2 separate regions of the Homo sapiens genome follow, and region 1 is linked to region 2. The links come from fine-mapping of genetic effects on gene expression. Tissue or cell type: whole blood. Region 2 holds a variant in brackets; the other region holds the start of a gene. Each region is shown on its reference strand, or each on the opposite one. Region 1 holds the start of CXCR3 (C-X-C motif chemokine receptor 3). Region 2 has its middle 6.3 kb from the start of TBX21.

Region 1 (2,901 bases), not on the chromosome of region 2:
CGGTCAAAGCTGATGCAGGCCAGCAGGAGGGCTCCTGCGTAGAAGTTGATGTTGAAGAGGGCACCTGCCACTTTGCAGAGGCCAGAGCCAAAGACCCACTGGACGGCAGCGTCCACTGCCCAGAGCGGCAGTGTCAGCACCAGCAGCGTGTCTGCTACAGCTAGGTGGAGCAGGAAGGTGTCGGTGCTGCTCAGGGCTGTCCGCCGGCTCAGCAGCACGGCTGCCACCGCGCCGTTGCCCAGCAGCCCCAGCAGAAAGAGGAGGCTGTAGAGGGCTGGCAGGAAGGCCCGGTCGAAGTTCAGGCTGAAGTCCTGTGGGCAGGGCGGGGAGGTACAGCACGAGTCACTCTCGTTTTCTCCATAGTCATAGGAAGAGCTGAAGTTCTCCAGGAGGGCGGCAACCTCGGCGTCATTTAGCACTTGGTGGTCACTCACCTGTGAGGGCGGGAACGGGGAGGAAGGGGCTGTGTAAAGGCCTGGCAGGAACTCTTTTGTGATTGAGTCTGATTTAGTCTGTGATTTACTCTGAGCAGCTCCTCCTATAACTGTCCCCGCCAGTCTTCCAGGGCCGTACTTCCTCAACTCCATCCGCTCAGCCTGGGCTCTGGGATAGTGACTTCCCTTCTCAAAGGCTGCTTCTCTCGCATTCTTCTGCGTGATCCCATCGGCCCAGGGACCCCTGGGCAGGAAGAAGAGCGTCCCTCCAGTGCCCAGAGCCCTCTCTGCCCACTGTCCTCTCTCTCCCTGCTCTCCCTTCAGGCTTGCCTTGCGTCCTCAGTGCCCCACCCCCAACACATAGTTCAACCACCTTCCTCCCCAGCGCCTCTCCACAATCCCCTTTTCCAGTCACTAACCCTCCTCTTCCCTCCTTGGCCCTTGTCCGGGGACCCCAACTTCCTGCGCCCCCCCCCACCGTGTGGCCTCTCTACAAGTCACCACGCCCCCCAAATGCATGCAGTCTGCCCAGTCCTTCCCCCTCCCTACACTGAGGCTTGCACGGCCATTTAGCTGCCCACAAGGGGATCCCCCACTTAGCTTGAGAAGGAATCTTCTTTATCCCCTCACCCCCAGCACTATGGACCTGCAGGTCTCCCCAGTACCAATTTAGTCCAGCACGCCAAGAGTCAAAGTTCCAAGTCTCCTGAAGGGAGCCTTCGAGTCTACTTGCCCCCCGCCCCCCCCATTTTGCAGACGAGACACCGAAGCCAGAGAGGAGAGGAGAGGCACCCAGGGTCAGTGGCCAAGCTGGGTTCCCAATTCCCCAGTGCTGTTTCTGCCACAACCCATGCGGCCTCCAGCTACTCACCCAACCCTGTGGTGACCCTGGGCTGTGGGCCAGCCCTGGCATTCCCCTGATGCCCCGGGTTTTCCACTTCGAATTCTGGCCTGGCCTGGCTGGGCAGCAGCACTTACCTCAAGGACCATGGCTGGGCTGGTGCTCTGGCTGCTGGGTGGTGTGCTGCCTGCCCCTCTGCTTTGGTGCTTGTGGTTGGAAACCTGCAGTCACAGAGGAAGTGGGAGTTTCAGGCAGTTCTCAGCAGCAGCCTCTTCCAGGGAGTTACCTCTACCAGACCTCCCTAAACCTCAGGCCACAGAGTTTCCGTGACTGGGTGAAACCTCTCTGGAGGAGCTGGCTACAAGCTTGGGACCAGAAAAGCTGGGCAGAGGATGACTGGCTGGGGGCAGGTCCTTTGAGAAGAGAGGTCTGAAGAGGAAGCAATGCAGCTGAGAAGTGAAGGGCAACCCTACTGCCTGCACTGGTAGGGTCAGTGCTCCATAGATTGGAACTCATCTGTCCTGGCCTTGAGTTGATCTTTGCATGATTGTAAAGGCTGGGTAGAGAAATAAGTCTGCAGAGGAGATCCACCTTCTTAAAAATTTCAGCTAGGTGCAGTGGCTCATTCCTGTAATCCCAGCTACTGGGGAGGCTGAGGCAAGAGGATCACTTAAGGCCAAGAGTTTGAGACCAGCCTGGGCAGCATAGCGAGGCTCCATCTCTACCAAAAATAAAAAAAGCCAGCCGGGCATGGTGGCATGTGCCTGTAGTCCTAACTACTTGGAAGCCTGAGACAGGAGGATTGCTTGAGCCCGGGAGTTCAAGTCTGCCTTGAGATATAATTGTACCACTGCACTCCAGCCTGGTGACAGAGTGAGGCCCTGTCTCTTAAAAAGGGAATTAAAATATTTTTTTAAAAAGCCGTTACACTAAATCTAGCTTTTTACCACCACCTCTCCCTGCTAATCAGTGGGGAAAAAGAAAGGGAACTACCAGTAATGAACTTGCTATGTGATAGACATTGCTTTAGGTGCTTTCTCCGACACTGCCTTATTTCAACCACACAACTCACTTGTGACGTGCGGGGTTATCTGCATGGATGATTCAGAAAGGGGACAGGCCTTCGCCAGACACGGCAATTAAAGGTGGGCGTGAGGATTGATCCCACGGCTGTCTGATTCTCCTTTTCCTACTCATGAACACTGTCTTCAGTTTCTTTTAAGTGAATAAGCTATGATATATTCATGCAGTTAAAAACAAATGAACTAAAGCTACACATTTGAACATGGATGCATCTAGAAAAGCCAACGATCACATGGTAGAAGAAGCAAGTTACAGAATGCCATGTATAGTTTGATGCCACTTACATAAACTCTAAAAACCACCACAAAATCAATACCATGTTGTTTTGGATAACACTGTTGGTTCTCGAGGTTTAAAACAGGGACAGGAGATACCACAAATTCATAAAAGCAGTTGCTTCTCGGGCAAGAAGGAGGATGGGGTTGGGGAGGAGGCCATAGGAACTTCTTGATCTTAAGGAAAAGCTGTAAGGCAGCCTTGGTACAGCACATCAGTCACTTTATGGCAGAGAATGGTGAACAATTCCTCTCCCCACCTGCCCTC
Region 2 (2,901 bases):
GCTCCCCCACCCCATTCTGGCCCACAGCCCTGGGGAAGCGACATGGCGTTCTCACCACGGACCCAGTGCCGGCTGTGGCTTCTTCCCTCTGACCTATTTTTTAATCATTTGATGGGATTTTTCCCCCCCAAACCAAACCCCCAGCCCCCTGGGCCCGTCAGCTCCACCGCGTGTCAAAACCACCCCTGTCACTTTGCGTTGGTTTCTCAGTCCAGCCAGCCCCTCCCCGCAGGGCCTGAGAGCGATGGCTAATTACCCAGCTGCTGAACGCCCCCCACTCCTGCCCCTCCACCCCTAGCCCTGACAGAGGGGCCCTGGAGGACTGCTGGGAGAAGCTGGGGCCTCCTCACCCTCCCACTGCTTGGCAGGAAGTCCTTCCTGCTGTCTAACCTCCATTCTTCCCTCTGTCCTGCCCCTAGTGGTGCTGAATCGCAGACACAGAGGCTGTTGGTACTATAAGGGTCTTTGGGATACCTCCTTAAGGGACAGAAAGGGGCAACTAGTCTTCTGTCCTGGGTTTAGGGATGTCTTCTGTCACTCTGGCTCTCTAACAGAATTCTAGGGGATGGTCCTTGCTGTCTCATTTTACAGAGCAGAAAACTGCGACACACAGAGGGAAAGGGCCTAGCCCAAGGTGATCTACGCCAGTGGCGGAGCCAGAATCAGAACCTAGAGTTCCATGTTTGTCTTTCCACCTGTTTCTGGGTCCTGTTTCTGGTATGTAGAGGGCCCACCCCCACATACCAACTAGGTCTGTTTCTGTTTCTGTGCAACTCCGCTGCCAGCCCTGAGCAGGTGTGTTCCCTGCCATGCCCTCTCTCCCTTGCCCCCTGGCCACACAGAGCTTCACCCTGGCATTTCAGGGCTGGGCAGCTTGCTTCAGGCACTATTTAGGAATGGGACTCTTTCCCCCAATACCACCCATGCCCTTTTCCCTCTTCCTCTCTCATTCATCCCTAACCAAGTCCGTAAGTCTGCTCTGTCTCACCCGCACCCTGAGACATTAACCAGGTGGACAAGGCAAAAAGCTCTAGGCCAGACACAGGAAGGCCAGAGCCAACTCACAGATGAGGCCTAGTCCCAGATGGACAGATAGACATGCAGGAGATACATGGAGCGCTGGATAGCCCTGGAGACACGGACAGTGACATGAAGATGCAGAGACAGACACAAACACGCTACAGAGACAAGGCAAGTTCCGAGGCCCACAGGTAACAGACAGACACAGAGACGCAGACAGAGGCACAGAACCTACACTCAGGACCAGCGTGCAGACCTCTCACAGGTCCCAGGGATAGGAGTGGACGTAAAGAGGATACACAAGACGCAGGCAAAAACACAGGGACCCAGAGAGGGGCCGAATCAGACCAGAGGAACCCAGACACTCAGGAGCCCTGAGAGACATGGGCACACAGGGCTGCCCACAGATCCCAGGAAGCCAGAGAGAACCTTGGGGAGAGAGGAGGCCCCAGGGGGTGGGTGGCCCTCTGAAGGACAGCGAGGCCTGGCCTGGCAGAGCCTGACTGTGCCAGGAAGTCATGCCAAGATGGCAAGATGGGAAGCAGAGAGGAGCTTGGCAGCGTGGGGGTTAACCCCTCAGCCTGTGCC[C/T]TCCCTCCAAGTCCCTTTTCCTTGGCTCTTCTTTTTCTTCCCTCCTCTCCCAGCTCCTTTTACCCAAAGCCCTGGATATTTCCCGCCTCCCCAGCCCAACTCCTGGTAACCAGACCCTGCTTCCTGCCTGAGATTAAGGGCCTGTCTGCTGAGAGGCAGGAAGGGTGGGGGCACAGCCTCTCCCCAGTGCCTCCTGAAGCTTGGGCTTGCCCATCCATACTGTGGCATGCCCTCCTGATAACAGAGTTACCCAAGTACCTGATGTCTGAATATCCCTTCAGGAGGGCGCAGGAGCCCTAGCCTGGGAGTGCAGCGGGGGCGGCCTACTGCATGCGTGGGTGTGCATGGAGGGTGTGGGTCTTATGTGAAATGCTGGCAGGGGTGAGAGCAGCTAGAGATAGAGAGAGGATAGATGATTCAAAATAAGATGCCACGGAGAAGGAGGACTGAAAGGCACCCAGGCCTGGCCTGGAGCCCAGGGGTAAGGGCCGCTCAGGCTTGGTGGGGGGTGTGTGGGGAAGGGTGACCCAGCCTGCAGATGAGAGCCTGGAGCCCTTGACCTTGGGAGGAGCCCTCTGTTCTGTGTTCACACTGACCACCTGGTGCTGGGTGCTGGGGACTCGGAACTCCTGCAGCTGTCACGGGGCGGGGGGGTTCTACAGGTGCTTGTCCCTCCCCTTCCCCCCTCTCTGGCTGTTAATCTGATGGTTCCGGCCATGCCCTCTGAAGGACTGGCAGTCTGGGCCCAGAGGGGGAGGGGATTCAGGGCACGCGGGGTGGGCAGAGTCAGATGCTGAAGGAGCTCTGGGATGCTGGATGTGGGGCAAGAGCAGGCGGTGGGGCTGCAGGGACTGGATCGCAGAGATTTCCCTAGCATAGCTCTGCATGGGGTGTGTGTGCACATGCGTGGATGATGGCGTGTGTGCACGTGGTGTGTTGTGAGTCTACACCCCAGGAGCAAGAGGGCTGAGGGGGTCACTTTGCTAGGAGCTCTTTGGGGGCAGGGACTGACCCTAATTTATCTTTGTGATCCCAGATCTCCAAGGGCCTGGCTTATCCCAGCGCTCAGGTACCCAGGGAATGGTATATGGGTATCAGGAGGGGAAGCCTGTCCCTTTCTAATATGTGAGTCTTATGAACAGAGGGGCTCTCTTTTGGCCCCAGGCCCTGAGTGGAGGCTGAGGATGGACCTGAAGGACACTTTGTGGATGAGCCACTAAGCCAGAGGGAGGAAAGGGCAGGTGTAAGTGGCTGGGAGTAGAGGAAAGAGGGCTTAGCACAGTTTATGCCTCT

What was found. PIP is the estimated chance that this variant, and not a neighbour inherited with it, causes the effect. A credible set is the group of variants that fine-mapping cannot tell apart.
Region 1: it holds the start of CXCR3, and the variant in region 2 is the best candidate, but not a certain one, in a credible set for the expression of CXCR3 in whole blood (TOPMed, PIP 0.68).

The regions. Positions count from the first base shown.
Region 1 is chrX:71,617,026-71,619,926 of GRCh38, forward strand. It overlaps CXCR3 (C-X-C motif chemokine receptor 3), which reads right to left and starts at 1,486. Exons shown (of 2, transcript NM_001504.2): 1 at 1,413-1,486; 2 at 1-434. The coding sequence starts at 1,424.
Region 2 is chr17:47,725,520-47,728,420 of GRCh38, forward strand. No RefSeq gene overlaps it. Among named protein-coding and RNA genes, the nearest start is that of TBX21, 6.3 kb to the right of the region's middle. The variant C/T (reference allele first, on the strand shown) is at 1,609.